Linked DNA regions of Homo sapiens: region 2 is linked to region 1. The links come from fine-mapping of genetic effects on gene expression. A gene starts in region 1. The other region holds a variant in brackets. All regions are shown on one strand. Distances are from middle to middle.

Evidence for each region. PIP is the estimated chance that this variant, and not a neighbour inherited with it, causes the effect.
Region 2: its variant is fine-mapped to the expression of TBX19 in whole blood (TOPMed, PIP 0.91).

What each region holds. Positions count from the first base shown.
Region 1 is chr1:168,276,897-168,286,338 of GRCh38, reverse strand. It overlaps TBX19 (T-box transcription factor 19), which reads right to left and starts at 5,462. Exons shown (of 8, transcript NM_005149.3): 1 at 5,046-5,462. The coding sequence starts at 5,248. RefSeq lists an enhancer at 653-1,154.
Region 2 is chr1:168,237,872-168,247,313 of GRCh38, reverse strand. SFT2D2 (SFT2 domain containing 2) reads right to left here. Exons shown (of 8, transcript NM_199344.3): 7 at 8,154-8,183; 8 at 1-4,813. The coding sequence ends at 4,774. It also overlaps the pseudogene ANKRD36BP1. Among named protein-coding and RNA genes, the nearest start is that of SFT2D2, 17 kb to the right of the region's middle. The variant G/A (reference allele first, on the strand shown) is at 4,418.

The sequences.
Region 1 (9,442 bases):
ATTGTGGAGATGGATGCACAACTCTGCGAATTACTGAGAACCACTGAACTATACACTTCAAATGGATGAGCTGTATGGCATGTGAATTATATCATCACAAAGCTGTTAATAAAAACAAAGAAGTCACAGTGTCTTGTCTCTTAGAAGGAGGACATATCTGGGAAATGGTAGAATGATTAATTGCTCTATTTTCTTTAGTATTGCATTTGCCAAGAACTTTATAATTATTTTTTGTTTTTATCACTACGTAAATAAACTGAGAAATGACTATTTTTTAATCCATTCCCTATTTTAATACATTTTTTAATACATTCCCTATTATGGCAATGAGGAATAAATAAAAGTCAGTCAACTTGCCTAAGGTCTTGTAACTGGGAATGGAACTCACCCTGCCTCCAAGCCAAGTTCCCCTCCTCCCACCCCACTTTCCCCTCTTTTGTCTCACAATGACAGGGATGCATTATCTAGGGATCCAGTAACTAATTGATCTGTGATTACCACTCGTGATCAGGCTTTATTTTCAGGAATTAACTGCACTTCCAATCAAGGTGATTTTTTTCCCCATTTTTTTCCTAGATGTAGCTAACATAGAGAAACCCAGAGTGTGAGGGATAAGAAATATGTAAATCAGTCCCTAAGTAACAGCATAATTTCACTTAATCCACCCTGGAGAGAAAGCCTCCTTGGAGAGAAAGAGAGGAAAATGTGGCAGGGTAAATAAGCACTCCTCAAGAAAACCACACCTGAAGAACCACAGGTGGTTGGGCTTTGCCCATAAACTGTTGGGCTTTTATTATGAGACCAGCTTTCCAGTTTTATTTCACTGACAGGGAATCTCCAGAAGTCAGTGCTGCTGGAGGAGGCTATGAGAAGTGAGGTTTGCAAGAAGAAAGAGGGGCAGAGATGAGGCAGATTTTACAGGTGAGGGAACAGCAGAGAGTTAAAAGCAAATTCAAAAAGTTAAACTTGTAAACACTTTCCTCCATCTCTCCTCAAAACTCTACTATTTATCAAATACTCATCAGAACTTTTAGAGGGGTGTGTGTGTGTGTGTGTGTGTGTGTGTGTGTGTGTGTGACATACATGGTGCATGGATGCTGACATTTATGTGAAGGTGAGCAGGCATAAGAATAGCAACAGGTGTCAATTAAAGATAAATAAACGAAGGGAAAAAAACAACAGCATTAGGGAAGCAAGGTGGCCTGGTTAAAGGCAGATTACATAAATACATATGATCTTCTTGAGCTGTAATTTTAAACTTCAGAGAAAAATACCCATGGGCTGTAGGGACATGGAAATGTATTGGCCTGATGTGCAACTTTACTTTTCTCCTCTCTTGTACTGCCCTTACTGGAGACTATGAACAGCAACTCAGTGGCACTGCACCAATACCCCTTAATCATCAAGCACTGGTGAATCATCGAAACTAATCGGCAAATTTAAACTTAGTAATTCCCACCTCTTATTTTATGATGACAAGAAATATGGCATTTTCCCCTTAGGTGAAAATGTTACAAGTAAAGAAAACAAAAGCAAGAGATTTGATTTTTTTTTTTTTTTTTTTTTTTTTGAGACACGGTCTCACTCTGTTGCCCAGGCTCGTGTGCAGTGGTGTGATCACTGCAACCTTGACCTCCCCAGGGTCAGGTGATCTCCCACCTCAGCCTCCCAAGTAGCTGGGACTACAGGTAGGTGTCACCATGCCCAGCTAATTTTTTGTATTTTTTGGAGAGACAGGGTTTCTCCATGTTGCCCAGGCTGTTCTAAAACTTCTGAGCTCAAGTGATCAACCTACCTGGGCCTCCTGGCTAGTTGTTTAAATTTTTTGTAGAGAAGAAGTCTCCCTATACTGCCCAGTCTGGTTTCAAACTCCTGGGCTCAAGCAATCCTCCCACTTCAGCCTCCCAAAGTTCTGGGATCACAGACATGAGCTGCCATGCTAGCAAGCAATTTAATTTATTAACCTCTGAAGTCTGAAATGAATTCTTTCTGCAAACTAAAGTATAAGTTTCCAGCTTAAAGGATGGACATGAAAGGGAATACTGGCTGGATACACTAGAGATGACTCAAATGAGCTCTAAGGAGGTATTATACTTATTACTGTTATATCTAAAGGACTATTAACTATGAATAACTGAAAGTTTTCAATTTTAAAAAGAGAGGGAGGAAGAAAAGGCTGAAAGGGAAATGAAGTAGTAGAATGGGGGAGGGGAGAGAAAGAAAGAAAAGGAGGAAGAGAGAGAGAGAAAGGAAGGAACGAAAGAAGAGAGGCCAACATCAGGATCCCAGTTTCTGGAGATAATTCCGTGTTTTTCAGAGAAAAGCCTTTCTCTTTACAGCTTCTGATCAATGTCAGAGGCAAGCTTCCTATTTATATATGTGAAAGTAGATCTCCACTTGACAATGAGTCTTTTCACTCTTTCATCGGCCCATCTTACGCTATTTCAAGATTTGCTATTTTAGTGCAGAACAATGAGACCTCAAGTGTATAGGAGTTACCACCCCAAATGATGCTTTTTTAAAAAGTCAAGGTGACAATGTCAATGAAAAAGGGCCCAGGTGACATTATGAATGAAAAAGGCTAGGACTGGGTAATCATACCAGGAACATTCTTCTCCACAGGGAAGGGCCACAAATCTACCTGCACCAGGTGCGGGAGTTGATGTGGAGGGCAAGGATTTGAAGGAGACACAAAGAGTCTATAGACATAGGAGAATGGGTAGAAAGGAGGCATAGAGGAATAAATAGTTAGGGAGAAAAGAGAGAAGGAAGAAGGGAGTAAAGAAGATGAAGCAAGAAAGATGTCTATATTAACAAAGGTAAAGTGTGACTAATGGTTTAATCTGAGAAACTAAGAGGTTGGGGGTAATTTCAGACCAAGTTCATTCATTATTAAGTACATCAATTTCTTATGGACTTGTCTTCCCTTCTTTAATCAAAGTATAAAGGAAACTTTCTATCTCCTGGCAAAATCTTGACCCTAAAGGGCTCCGAGAGCTTAGGAGAATTTAAGAAAAAGATTTCATCTATAGGAAGACGGCAAACACAGCAGGACATCCATAGATAAGAACAGCCAAGTTCACCGCAATCAGACTTTTTCTACAAAGAATATTGTTCATGTAGCTAATATTAAATGACGTTAAAGATGAAGGATTTCATTTTGCTTTTTAAAGACAGGGTCTCACCGTGTTGCCCAGACTGATCCCGGGCTCAAGGACCCCTTGCCTCAGCCTCCTGCGTAGCTGGGACAACAGGAGCACACCACCACACTGGGCTGATGTGAAGAATATTACATTTTAAATATAGGGGAAAATTACATAGGCAATAAAAAGGCAAGATAAAACTTTTCTTAAATGGTAAAAGTACATTCCAATGTAACATATTATTAAATTGGAATTTATCATGGTTTCAGAAACTTTTATTATTTATTCCTTATTGAAATAGATGAACCATATATTGACTTGGTAATTGTACTTATTTTTACTTTAATAAATGGCCAATTTGACAGCCCAATCAATAGCATAAGGCTAGGTATTACTGTAATTAGTATCCAATAATACAAAGAAAAATAAGCAGAATGTTCTACCTATAATCAGATATAATAAAATTTTTACAGTTGCATCTTTGCCCATTTTTAAAGGGTCAGAGACTAAATCCAATTAAGAATTTGGTGTAATTCTGTGAAATTAAAACTATGTTTTATGTTTTCTTCTATGAAAGAAGCTAAAAATAATGTGTAAATACAGGTCAAGAGAAGGAACTATAATTACAGTAACAATATTAAAAGCAATAAATCTATATGAAATAAGTGTGGAACCCATTTTGAGAAAGAAAATATAAAAATCAAGCAAGGTTGATATTCCTGCTACTGGTATAATCGCAATTTCTTGAAATGCCCTAATTCAGGTATGGCTTTCATTTTAGAAAGCATTTTAATGCCATGTAACAGCTCTCGAGTTCATAACTCTTCAAGATTGACAAGAAATAGTTCATTTTCTATACTGTGCTTTATTAAAATATAGAAAACCGAGACATCAGGAACGGAAGCACTTTGCACAAGGACAAAAGCCTGACAGAAAGAAGTTCAGATGGCCTCGGCTCTTCTCTTTTATCAGAATTCTCTCGAGGGTGTCATAATTAGAGTTCAGCCAAAACTAAGCCTACTGAAAATGCCTTTCAGCATTTTGTACTTTTGTGACCATGTGTATGAAAAGCTATGTGAACACCAGCTGAATGTTGGAGCCAGTTTGGCCAAGCTGCGAGCGGTGAGATTTTGTTTCAAAATATTTGCGTCTCCTCTACGAAGTGAAATCTTCTAATATTACCTGGACAGCCCCTTAGCAGACTAGGTTTAATAGAATCTGAGAAATGCCACCAGAGATCAGTTTCAGTTAATCCCTAAATTTGTTGCACTGATAAGAAAGAAGGCATCTTCTTTTCTCTAAAGCAGAATAATATGTTTTCATCCACTATTACTGCAACAGCTTTCATATCATCACAAACACACACAATCTCAAATGAACACTCACCACAAACACACACGGGGAAGCAGATGAAGTGATAGGCAATGAGTTTACATTTGCCCTTTTGCTTCCAATCTTCAACTAGCCAAACATTTCTGGCAAGTTTGCTATACTTAGGAGGAGATCATCCAGCTTCCAAATAAAGTTGTCTTTCACCTTATCTGGACGGAGTTGGGGCTCAGGTCTGCGATAGGGTATGCAGCTAGTCACAAATTAATATTATTTTCTGACATTTAAGTCCATTTTCCCATCCCAATGGGGCATGCCCCCCACTTTATGGTAATTTCCCCAGAATTTCTCCATTTAAAATGCACATAAGACAGGTGGCTTCATCCTCTGATGATCTCAGATAAATTAATTAAGTTGGCTGGAGGAAAGCCATTGGAGACAGTCGTTCCTGTAAGCATGTTTAATCAGATCCCGCCGCCTCTGAGTGAAGAGCGGCAGCCTCTTCAATATTCAAGGGGTCTCATCTCTCCTGCCAAGCCCTGCCAGCCCACGCGGGGCGGCAGATAAACTCACCTGCCATTCTTGGTCACAATCATCTCATTAGTGACTTCCTTGAATCTCTGCCAGAGAGGTGCATCCTCCAGGATGATCTGAAGTTGCTTCTCCGTAGGGTCGCCTTTTTCCCTCCCTGCCTGAAGCTCACTCTCCACCACATTGAGCAGATGAGAAACAGTGCCATCGCTGGGCTTCCGAGTGCCCAGCTCACTCATGGCCATAGGCACTTCTCGAACTTTGCCGAGAGCCGTTACCCAACTTGCCTGCTTCTAGCTTCTTCCTTCCCTCACTTGCCTGCTTTTCAAACCCACTTGAACAGTGCTTGGGGAGCGGAGAGAAGATACCCTGGCTCTTGCCTAAGCTCCTAGGATGACACCCCTTAAAAGTCTCCACATTATGCCACCAACCTGTTAAGCTTTAGTTGGGGAGCGGGGTGGAGGCAGGGGAGAGGTAGGGAAGAAAAAGCCCTCTCTTAATTACTCATTGGATCAGGTGGGAGAGAGCCTGGCTTTCCCATTGGCTGCCGTGCACAGAGTAGATATTTAAGAAGAGTACTCCATCCAAATTATCAGGCTTTTATCTTGTTGTACCTGAAGAGGTCTAATCGGTGTATTGAGGACCATTTTCCCATTAATTAAAATTATTCCAGGCCCAGACTGCACTGTCAGGCAAATCATGTTTGTGCATAAATCATGACATGTGGCACCTATAAAGAAAAGGGTCCTGGGGAGAATCGACAAACTTGATGCCCAGGCTATAAGCTACTCTCCAGCATCTTAGACGAAGGCTCTGGAGGGAAGAAAGCATGTATGGAAGGTCCAAGGCACTGTGCCAAGAAACATGACTACTGTACCAGAGAATAAAGGAAGACACTCTGTGTGCCACTGCTCAAGGGTCAGGGCTCCGGAGAAAAGAAAAGAGCTCAGAATCTCTTTCTCCCAGGGTGTCCCCTACTGATCATCTCTCTCCTGAATGTCCTATACTCGCTCACACCCCACTTTTCTCAAGGGCCCTCCTCACCTCCTACAAATGGAGCTGTGAATGTTGTCCTTCCTCCCTAGAGTCTAGAACCCCAATTTTTGTTATCTCTAGCCTTTGCCAGAGGAAGACAAAAAAGCAGCTAGTATCATATTAATCTCGCTAAGGAACACTCTGCCCCCAGTCAGTGAAAATAAACTGTTTACATTATTAGGCAGAGCAATTTCAATCTTTGGTCCAGAAAGGCATTCTGGTTTTCTCTTTAGACAATTCATCCTTATTTTGGCATTCCAGGATGAATCCCACATTCCCTGGGAAGAAACACTAGTAGAAAGCTTTTCTTTTGCCCACAACACACAGTACTAATGGCGAGTGAGTGGATGGCGGGTGGAAGAGACAGGAGCAGAGGAAGCTCTACCTCCTCTGGCCCCCAACCTTGAGTAGAGCCTGGGGGTTGTGAGTTTTTCTCTCATTTCAATACAAAGTAAGAAAACAAGAACATAAGGAAAACAAACCCAAAAAGGTAAGATAAAGTCAGGGTAAGGATGACAGAAAATGTATTCAGGATCTCCTATGCTACATACCTATGAAGCATCACATACAGCAAGGAACAAACAGAAATGGCCTGCGCCTTTACAGAATTAACAATATGATGGAGAAAATAAATGATATAAAGTAAACAACAACTAAGTAATTATCAATAGTGATAAGTCTATGAAGGCTACTTAAAAGGGTGAAGTGATCAAGAAAAATTTGTGCACAGCAGGGTAGGGAACTCCAGTTAGATGGAGTTGTATAGAACAGCTTCTTTGAGGAGGAGACATTTCAGATGAGACCAAAAGCTCAGCAAAGATGTAGTCGGGGAAGAGTTGGCAGAGTGCCAAGCAGAAGAATTACATGTGAGAAGCATGGCTTGAGCCAGGTAGAAATCTCCAGGGAGGCCAGTGTGACCAGAATGTGGTGGTAAAGAGAGCAGAATGAGATGTTCTTTGAGAGAGGGCCAGGCCAGACCATGAGGCCTTAGAAGTCATGATGAAGAATTTGAATGTTCTTCAGCATGAGATAGGAAACAATTGGAGAGTATTAAGTAGGAAAACAGCATGATTGGCTTTGTGTTTGCAAAAAATCTAATCGATTTGTGAAGAATAGACTAGGAAAGGGCAAGAGCTGAAGTAAAGAACAAATTAGAGGCTATGACAGCAATTCAGGCAAGAGCTGGTGATGGCTTAGCCTAGGGTAGTGGCAGTGGCCAAAAAATGAAGTGTACAGGTTCTAGATACACTTTAGAAGTCTATATGACAGAACAACATGAGAGACTGGATATGGGGGTGAGGGAGAGCAGAGAACCATGTGCCTGATCAGAACAATTATTAGATGGCAGGGCCATTTACTGAGATATGGAAGGTGAGGGAGGTGGAAGGGTAGGCAGAGGTACAGTTTGGTTAGGAGACTCAAACATTTCAGTTTCATACAGCTAACACTGAAAAGAATGTGGCAGGCTGAATAAGGACCCCCTGCAAAAGAGACCCATTTCCGAATCCCCAGAACCTGTGAGTGTATTACCTCACATGGGAAAAAGGGACTTTTCAAATGTGATTCAGTTAAGGGTCTTGAGATGGGGAGATTAACCTGGGTTATCTGGTGAGCCCAGTGCAATCGCAAAAATAAGAGGGAGGCAGGAGGATCAAAGTCAGAGGAAGAAGATGTAAGGACAGATGCAGAAGTCAGAGGGGAGAGAAGATGCTACACTCCTGGCTTTGAAGATGGAAAAAGGGGCCAGAAGACACGGAATGTAAGAAGTCTCTAGAAGCTGGGAAAGATAAGGAAATAGATTATCCTCTAAAGCCTCCAGAAGGAACATAGTCCTGCTGACACCTTGGCTTTAGTCCAGTGAAACTAATTTTGGGCTTCTGATTCCCCAAACTGTAAGATAATAGGTTTATGTTGTTTTAAACCACTAAGTTTGTGGTAATTTGGTACAGCAGCAATAGGAGACTAATGCAAAGACTATTAGGTATATAAGTGGAGATTTTGAGAAGGCGCTGCTTAGAACTGTGACACAATTGTGGCTCTGAGCTTCCAAGCAGCCAATGCAAAGTGGGGGAATATAATCTGGCATACATTAAACTGTGTCCCTAAAATAAAAGCAAGCCTTGACCTGTGAGAAATTTCCCCCATAAATCTTTATGAGGAAAACGCTGTGAGATACAGTGAACAATGTCTCCCCAAACAGTCTACCAGTAAGATAAAAATCTTTCCTTCAAATAGTTTTACAATCTAGAAGGGACAGAAAGACACGCTTGTGGAATTCCAATACAGAAATGTGAAGTGTTCTGAAGCACCAGTAAGGGAGAAATGAAGAAAAAACAGAACTAAGACTGGAATATGACAAGGATGACCACTTACACTACTGTTATTCAACATAATACTAGAAGTTCTAGCTACAGCAATCAGACAAGAGAAAGAAGTAAAAGACATCCAAACTGGAAAGCAGGAGGTCAAATTATCCTTGTTTGCAGATGATATGATCTTATATTTGGAAAAAACTAAAGACTCTGCCAAAAAACTATTAGAATATATAAACAAATTCAATAAAGTTGCAGGATACAAAATCAACATACAAAAATCAATATAGCACTTCTATAGGCCAACAGTGAACAATCTGAAAAAGATATCAAAAAAGTAATCCCATTTACAACAGCTACAAATAAAATAAAATATCTAGGAATAATCTTAACCAAAGAAGTGAAAGATCTCTACAATGAAAACTATAAAACATTGATGTAAGAAATAGAAGAGTACATTAAAAAGTGGGGAGATAAACCATGTTCATGGACTGGAAGAATCAATATTGTTAAAATGTCCATACTACACAAAGCACTCTACAGATTCAATGCAAGCCCAATCAAAATATCAATGACATTCTTCACAGAAATAGAAAAAAAAATCCTAAAAATTCATATGGAACCATAAAAGATGCAGAATAGCCAAAGCCATCCTGAGCAAGAAGAAAAAAAACTGAAGGAATCATATTACCTGACTTCAAATTATACTAAAGAGATATAGTAACCAAAACAGCATGGTACTGGCATAAAAACAGACACATAGACCAATGGAACAGAATAGAGAACCCAGAAATAAATCCTACAGTGAATTCATTTCCGACAGAGGTGCCAAGAACATACATTGGAGAAAGGACAGTCTCTTCAATAGATGGTGCTGACACGAACTGGTAAACCTAAAAGAAATGACCAAATTCCTGAAAACATACAACCTCCCAAGACTGAACCAGGAAGAAATTGAAAGCCTGAACAGATCAATAACAAGTTTCAAAATTGAATTAGTAATAAAAAAATTACCAACCAGAAAAAGCCCTGGGCCAGATGGATTTACAGTTGATTTCTACCAGACATATAAAGAGCTGGTACCAATCCTAC
Region 2 (9,442 bases), 39 kb after region 1:
TAACATTACATGTATACCTATGTAACAAACCCGCATGTTCTGCACATGTACCCCAGAACTTAAAGTATAATTTAAAAAAAGAAGTATTTCCAGAATCTCATATAAAAAAAGAAAATTAAAAATGCAGTTTATTTATGTAAAAGATCAGTGGAACTTAAAGATAATCACTGAGTGACTTACAGTAAAAATTAAAAAATGAAAAAGACTAGTGTACTACAAAAGAGACTATCTGAAAAAAAAGAAATATCACAGAATATCAAAAACTTGAATGGGAACAAGAACTCTGCAGTTTGAGATTTCTGATAGTCATGAAAAAGAAGAAGACCTGTTGCATAAAAACCATTTGATGCAAGATGAAATTGCCAGGCTCAGGCTGGAAATACACACAATAAAAAATCAAATCCTGGAAAAGAAATACTTAAAAGACATTGAAATTATAAAAAGAAAGCATGAAGACCTTCAAAAGGCTCTAAAACAGAATGGGGAAAAATCAACAAAAACGATAGCCCATTATAGTGGACAGCTTACTGCTCTGACAGATGAGAACACAATGCTCCGTTCTAAACTGGAGAAGGAAAAACAAAGCAGGCAAAGACTGACGAAATGGAATCATACCATCGTAGACTGAATGTTGCTCTACATGATCATGATCAAAGTCACTCAACAGAAAGAGACCAAGAGCTTGATTTCCAGGGCACAGTAGATAAATTGCGTCATTTACAGGAAAATTTGAATTCTCATGTTCTGATTCTTTCTCAGCAACTTTCTAAAGCTGAGAGTAAGTCCAGGTGCCTCAAAACTGAGCTCCATAACACAAGAGAGGCTCTGAAAGAAAACGCTTTGGTTTTTGAACACATACAAAGAGAGCTAAACCAAACGGTGTCAAATGAAGGACATTGAAAAAATGTACACAAGTGGCCAAGATAAAGTAGAAAAATGCACAGAAAAGCAAGTAAGATTATGTCAACTACGAAGACAAAATATGTTGCTTCAACAGCAACTGGATGATGTTCACAACAAAGCTGACAATCAAGAAAAAACAGTAATTGATAGTCAAGCCAAATGTGATGCTACAGCACAAAATCTTCAAGCTGAGTGCATAAAGCACCGTCTTTTGCTAGAAGAACAAGAGGATGATCAATAAAGTTAATCATTTGAAAGAAAAACAATGTCAATATGAAAGAGAGAAAGCAGAAAGAGAAGTAGTTGTGAGACAACTTCAACAAAAACAGGGTGACGTCCTAAACAATCAACAACAAAAGCTTTGCTGGATGCTTCATTGCGTCACTGCGTCCATTGAGAAAGTGAGATGTAGGATTCAAGGAAGAAATTAGGTCAGATGAGAATTCAATTTCAAGAAAAATGGAATCAACTTACAGCGACTATAAAATGTACTAAGGAGACGCAAGGCCACGTACAAAAACTTGAAATAGAAAATTCTAGTGTTAAGAAATACAATTAAAAAGCAAGATGGCCAAATTGAGCAGCTTCAGAAAATCCTGCGAAGTTCAAGTTTGATGCAGCAGTTATTGCAAGAAAATGAAACTACAGAAATAGATGAAGCTTCTTCTGAATTTAAATCTGGATCCTCTGTAGCAGAGGTTCCCAACCTACAGGCCATGGACAGGTCCATGACCTGTTAGGAACCAGCTGCACAGCAGGAGAGTTACTGTGGATCTTCTAGATCATCTGCATGCCATGTGAATCTTAAAACCAGTTTTTAATTTCTACAAAAAAAAAAAAAAAAAAGCCTGCTTGGCTTTGGATGGGGACTGCATTATATCTATAGATTAATATGGGAAAGAATTAACATCAACAATGTTGAGTCTCTCAACCTATCAACAAGATATTTACTTAGGTCTTAATTTTTCTTAGCAATGCTTTTTAGTTATCAGTGTACAGATAATCCACATAGTTTGTCGGGTTTATTCCCAAGAATTTTATATTTTAATGCTATTGTAAATGGTATTATTTTTAAATTTTCAATTCCTAATTCTTTACTTCTAACATGGAGAAACACAATTGATTTGTGTATATCAATTATATATCCTGCTGTGTTGCGAAACTCACTTGCTGGTTTCAGTAACTTAGTAATGGATTTGATTTGGTTTTCTACATAGATGATAATATCTGTGAATAGACAGTTTTACTCATTTCTTTTCAATCTAAAGGCCTTTCATTTTTCTCCTTCCCTCCCTCTTTCCCCCTACTCCCAATTAAAACATGATTGCAGTGGCTAGAATTTTCAGTACAACGTTGAATAGAAGTGGTAAGAGTTGACATCTCTGTCTTATTCTCAATCTTAGGGGAAAACATTCAGCCTTTCATCATTACATAGGATGTTAGCAGTAGATATTTTAAAGATGCCCTTCGACAGGTTGAGGAAATTCTCTTGTATCCCTAGTTTGCTGAGATTATTTTTTAAACAAAGCATGGTTGTTCAATCTAAAAAAAAAAAAAGGACATGGACATGGAGGGATGAGCCTTCTAGGTGTCTTATTCCAGGCTGCTGGAGCTGCTGGAGCTCACAGTGACTAGCCAAGCCTCGTATCAGTTCTAAAGAAAAGGAACCATGAGCCCTCCTGACCTCCTCCATGTCCCTTCTGACACCACAGCCCTTCTGAGATCTGTCTCCAAGAGGCACCTGGGATGTGAAAGAATCCCACAAAAGCCAGAGGGGTAGCATAAAATTTCCTTTCCTGGCTGAGGACAGGTTAGTGACCTGAGCAGATGACTGGATGTCATCAATAGCCTAGAAAGAACCTGGGAAGACTAGCTCCTCTCTCTGGCCCCGTCAGGCTTGTTCACACCTCCCCAGCCTCAGAAGAAAAGATCAGCAGGGCACAGTGGCTCACACCTGTAATCCCAGCACTTTGGGAGGTCAAGGTGGGCGGATTACCTGAGGTCAGGAGTTCCAGACCAGCTTGGCCAACATGGTGAAACCCTGTCTCCACTAAAAACACAAAAATTAGCACGGGCGTGGTGGCGGGCACCTGTAATCCCAGCTACTTGGAAGGCTGAGGCAGGAGAATTGCTTGAACCCGGGAGGTGGAGGTTGCAGTGAGCAGAGATCACGCCACTGCACTCCAGCCTGGGCGACGGAGTGAGACTCCATCTCAAAAAGAAAAAAAAAAAAAAACCAGTCAGAGTTCTTAGCCACAGTAGGACAAAGAAAGGTTCAGCAATTAGCCACAAGAAAGGGGACAACCAGCAGGCCACTTCCTTTGGTTTAGCAGTGACAGAGGAGGAGCCCTAGTGGACCAGTTGGCCCTGTGCAAAGAACAGAAAGGCAATCCAGATAAACGTCATTTGTAGGATGACTCTGGAGGTCCTGGAGGGCCAGGAATGCTGGCTGACAAGACAGGGCACTAATCGTAGTCAGGCAACAAGGAGGAGCTGAAAGGGAACACAAGGGACAGTGAACATCCTGCAGATCCAGGAAGAAGCTTCCAAAAGAGATGGGCAGGGAGGGCCAGGGAGGAGATGGCTTGGCTGATGAAAACGAGGGAAACAGTCACAGGCAGTTACAGGAGGCACAACCAGAAACAGGCCAGGAAACTCTGGGGTCATGAAGGAGGCTGAAGCTGTGGCTTTGGGTGGATCCAAAAACCAGTGTGGGCCTTGATTCCCTTGACTGCACAGTGGTATAACAATCCCTGCTTCCTCACAAGGCTCTCCATAAGAACCAGGTAAGATCGTGGACACAAAAGCACTTTGTAGGTTAGGCATCAGGCTGACATGAGACCACCTGCAGTTTATCCCCAGTGTCCCCAGCACAGGCTAAGTGCAAACACTGGGACTATTTAAAGGTCACTGGGCAGGCGTGCCTACTTCCTGCTGGCTGCACAGCAGGGATCTGTCTTCCCACCCCACTCTCCCCTGGCCCAACTCCAGGGGAGAATGGAAAATAAAATCAGTTTAAAAGCAAACATTTATAAATAATGGAGAAAAAAATATAGCTGAGAGCAGCAGGATTTTTCAACTCCTATGGGCTCTCGTCCAAAAAAAAAACAGCAGCATTTTCTGCTGCTGCTCTGTTCTTTCCCCATCTAGTGCCAGGAGGTCATAAAGAAAGATATGCAGGGAGAGGGAGGGAGGGATGGGAAATAAAACCCAAGAGAAAAAGAGTCTGCACCTAATGTCAGAAAATACATTCCACAGTCAGGCGCAGAATCAGAACACCAAGAATGCTTAGATTCAAATTCAGAAACAGCATATACCACCAAAAAGTGCTTCTTTTCTACCTCACTCCATGGCCAGGCTCTCCAGGGGCTTGTCTAAAGCAGAGTCACTTGTTCTCAGATGCCAGAGTAGAAGCAGACTCACTCTATGCAGGACCACGGTGATGGCTTCCATGCTGAGGGACAAGTGGACCCCAAAACTCTGTCCCTTACTGTTGCTCCCGTGATCTCTGATG[G/A]GGCTGCCTTTTGCCACCTGGGAATCACTTGCACCCAAGGCTTATGTGCTGTTGCTGAATAGGTTTGTATTCATGGGAATTCAGTGGGACAACATCCAGAGAGGAAACAGGTACATGAGGAAGATTCCACTCCACAAGATACAGAACCCACTTCTCATCCTGTGCTACTGACATTCAGGTTCGAGAATGTATTGTTGCTTCCAAAAGTAACCCTCAAATGTTCGAATCACAAGCAACACATTGCTGCAAGATAAAAGGCACATGTCTGTAAGACAGAGGTTTCGAAGATAGTTACAAAACTGTCCACCAGCTTCTGTCCATAGTGCCTTCCAAAGCTTCATAAAACTGGCCATGAATTATGCAAGACACACGGCAAAACACTTCTTCACAGCATCCCTAGGAAAGAAAAGACACAAAGATGAGTGGAACGTCATCACCCCAAAGGCACTCCTTTAGAGGGCACCCAGAGTGGAAGCTGCAGAGTAGAAAGCACCTAGACTGAAAGATCAGACCTTCACAGCATCAAACTGCAGCTTCAACATTTATTAGTAGTACTATCCTGGGAAAGTTCCTTGTCCTGTTTGAGTTTCAAATTCCTCATCTGTAAGAGGGGATGTCCCCACTTACCCGACAGTCTGATTATGGGATTAGCCATCATAATCAGAGAAAAAGATAACATAGACTGTCAGAAACTAAGAAATCAGTCAGGATTGCTGCACTTTAATATCGGTCAAAATCACAGAATGCACTGACAGCATTAAATCAAATATTAACTGGGACCTTTCTTCATTCTAAGCAGGCAGCAGAAGGGAGCTCACTATGGGTCCTGAGCACTTATTAATATGCTATAATGGCCTTATCACAGGTATTTACTGCTTGGAATTCAGTGTAGAGGGTGCAAGGAAGAGTTGGTCTTCAAGAAATTACTATTCTACCCAAGCAAGCACTTCCATTTCCACCACCACACCACACTGTGCAATGTGGCACTAGGCTTCTCATACCCCAGCTCTGTTCCACGTTCTCAACTGTGCTGCACTAAGGACATTGGGAGTCACATAAGGGAGGGAGAGGTGAATGGATGCATTTCCATGAGTAGGCACTGCATTTTAATATCAAGATGGTTCCAGGGCAGCATTTCTTGAGATATACTCTGCACTGTAGTCTCAGAAGAGTCTCTGCACAAGAAGGGTTTTATGGCCACATAAGTCCCCCTCATGGCAGCTCACAATACACATAGCATATGGAAGGATCTAGCAAGCCAGGCAAAGAGGAACCTACCTAATTTTGCTTAACCTGTTTCTCAAACTTACTTGATCATAGAACTCTTTTCTTCCACAGAAACACTATTTCTGTGGAACACTGTGGGAAAAGCTATTCCAGGGGAACTTACAAATAGAAGGGTGGGGCCAGGCATGGTGGTTCGGACCTGTAAACCCAGCACTTTGGGAGGCCGAGGTGGGCCAATCACTTGAGGTCAGGAGTTCGAGACCAGCCTGGCCAACACGGTGAAACCCCATCTCTACTAAAAATACAAAAAATGAGCCTGGCATGGTGGCGTGCACATGGAGGCTGAGGCAGGAGAACAGCTTGAAGCCAGGAGGTTGGAGACTGAGGTGAGCTGACATCGGGCCACTGCACTCCAGCCTGGGCCATAGAGTGAGACTCCATCTCAAAAAAAAAAAAAAAAAAAAGAATAGAAGGGTGGGATCTAGCTCTGTGATTCCCTCCCTACTAGAGGAGTAATTCGTCTCCTCAGCACATGAAACTCACTATCTCAAATAAAATTCCCTCATTCTATCAATCACTTGTACATAAATTTTATACATGCCAATCCAGATCAAGACTGAAGCTCTGACAAATGACTCCAAGCAAGTTTCACGAATGAGACCTGTGCAACTGCATTGGCCCCATACTCAGAAGGGTCCACATTGGGTTTAATGCCTTGATTTGATGTTGCCATCTTGAAATTCTTAATCTTTTTTTTTGAGACAGAGTCTCCCTCTGTTGCCCAGGCTGGAGGGCAATGGCGTGATCTCGGCTCAGTGCAACCTCCGCCTCCCAGGTTCAAGCGATTCTACTGCCTCAGCCTCCTGAGTAGCTGGGATTACAGGTGCACGCCACCACGCTCGGTTAATTTTGGTATTTTTAGTAAAGACAGGAGTTCACCACGTTGGTCAAGCTGGTCTTGAACTCCTGACCTCGTGATCCGCACACCTCAGCCTCCCAATGTGCTGGGATTATAGGCTGAGCTACCGTGCCCGGCCTATGATTTTTGAACAAGAAGCTCACATTTTTATTTTGCACTGGGCCCTGAAAACTATGCAGCTGGTTCAGGGACCAAAAAATATTCATATGTTGGCAGGTTGATCAATATCTCATTGGATCCTCAGTAATGATGAACTCCGGTTTACTTCACATAAAAATCTAGCTTCCCAGGACATCCCTGCCCATATTCTTCTCAGACAAGCCACCAGGCCCCAAAACCAGCCAGGTCTGCATGGAGTATTTCATAACTGTTACCCTCCTAGAATCTATCAACAAAGCCACTCAGCTGCCTTTCACTTGAAAGGCTTAACTTCGCATCCAATCAATCACTCCTCAATACTTTCAAATCACTGTCAGCAACAGTCTTGGAATTTGTTAAGACATAAGATTGCTCTTCCTCCTTCCCAAGTCATGCATAATTTTTCATTTCCTCAGTACTTTTTTTTTTTTTTTTTTTGAGACAGAGTCTCGCTCTGTCGCCCAGGCTGGAGTGCAGTGGCGCCATCTCGACTCACTGCAAGCTCCGCCTCCTGGGTTCACGCCATTCTCCTGCCTCAGCCTCCCAAGTAGCTTCGACTACAGGCGCCTGCCACCACGCCCAGCTAATATTTTGTATTTTCAGTAGAGACGGGGTTTCACTGTGTTAGCCAGGATGGTCTCGATCTCCTGACAGCAGGATCCACCCGCCTCGGCCTCCCAAAGTGCTGGGATTACAGGCGTGAGCCACTGCACCTGGCCCAGTACAGTTTTTTTAAAAAGCTTGTTTTTAATTAACAGGTAATGATAAAAAAAAAAAAAAAAGAACAGAAGTTAAATAGTTGCATTAGAACAAAGTCAGAGGCAAAGATCATGCGGCTAATTTTGAGAGGTCCGTCACTGAAAGTGCTTAAAGAGGTATGGAGTATTAGAATTTCAGAGCTAAAAGAGGCCTCTGGAGATGATCTAGACCAACTCAGTCTACTTATCGATGCTTTGAGGCCAGAGGGGTCAAGAGAGCTGCTCGAGGTCACACTGCTAATTAGGAAGCCCTGGTACTGCTTACTCTCCCTTTATAAACTCTTGTGAAACCTTCCCAGCAGTGGGATACTGCAAGAAGCACGAATTGAGATCCCTCCATATCTTACTCAGTGATATGAAATGACATTCACCTTTATAAAAAAAAAAAAAAAAAAAACCCTACTCAAAGCTACGGGTTAAAAGAGTAATAATGTGCATATATGCACCATATATAAGAGTAGAATGTTCACAGCATTGGAAATCAGTGTACCTGGGTAAATATCCATCATTAGTTGTATAATTAGAGTGGGTGGTGGGGTGACCTTTAACTTACTTATCTATAAATGAGATGTATAGTATTTGTCTACTTGACTCAAAAGACTTCAGTAAAGATAAATAAAATAGGCTATACTCTCTGAAAGCAGACTCTGAATTAAAATGACAGAAATCATTATTTCCAAATACACAGTCTTACCTTGCAAATGGTATGAAGGAAAGGCTGTACCTATAATGAAAAACAAAACAAAGGGTCAAATGAGATGAAGGGAGTAGCAGATTATCCAGCAGAATGGGCTTCTGAGCTGTAAGAATACCTGCAGTGATCTATCCAGACCCTCTCCCATACTCAGCCTGGGGGATGAGCATGTGCACACAAAGGCCCACGCATGTGCATGCACGTGTACCCAAACACACACACTATGGCCATGTACAGATAGGCAGCCACAGAAGAAGGGCAAAAGGTTCATGTGGAGATAACCCGTATGACCTCGGCCTCAATGCAGTACTGCTATAACCTTGAACTAGCAACAATCACCTTAAACAGTCAGATTTCAAATACCCAGATGGCACAGAAACTCTATTCTGAAAAAATATCAAATAAAACCCAGAACAGTTGAACCGCACCCCCCTCCTTTATTTATTTATTTATTTTTTTTTTTGAGACAGGGTCGTGCTCGTCACCTAGGCTGCTGGAATATAGTGGCTCAATCATAGCTCACTGCAGCCTTGAATTTCTAGGCTCAAGTCTAGGAAGCTCAAGCAATCCCCCTGCCTCAGCCTCCAGAATTGCTGGGACTACAAGTATGTGCCACCATGCCCGGCTAATTTTTTAATGTTTTTTTTTGTTTGTTTGTTTGTTTTTTTGCAGAGACCCGGTCTTGCTACACTGTCCAGGCTAGTCTCAAACTCCTGGCTTCAAGCAATCCTCCCACCTCAGCCTCCCAAAGTCTTGGCATTACAGTGTGAGCCACCCATACCTGGCACAGTTGAACTCCTAACATTTTATAAATTCTAAACAGAATTTAACTTCTACCTAATTGGGATAAATTTTCTGCTCTGCTCCTATTAATTTTAAAAGAAGAGAAAAGAGAATAAAAAAGAAGAAGAAAAAAATGCTACCAACTACTCTATGAGTGAAAATGTAGTACGTCCAAAGGTATCTTGGTAAATTCCAGTTAGCTCAGCCCTGTCACTTAGAAGGAAACCATATACAAGGAACAGGCTCCATAATGCTAAAGAACCAGGCACTGTGTGTCAGGCAGACTGTAAGTTAGCCCTTAGAAAAGCAAACACAGTCAGAACACATGAGTGTTGAAGGGAATATCACCATTCAGCTGGACCCATATGAATGCTGAACCTCTGAAACTGGATTCAAAATCAGTCTATAAGCAAAGCAAGGTGTGTGTATATAGGTACCAATTTCTGCCCTGGAAGAAAAATCAAAATATAAACAGTCTACCACTCAAATGTGCATGTCATTTAAAA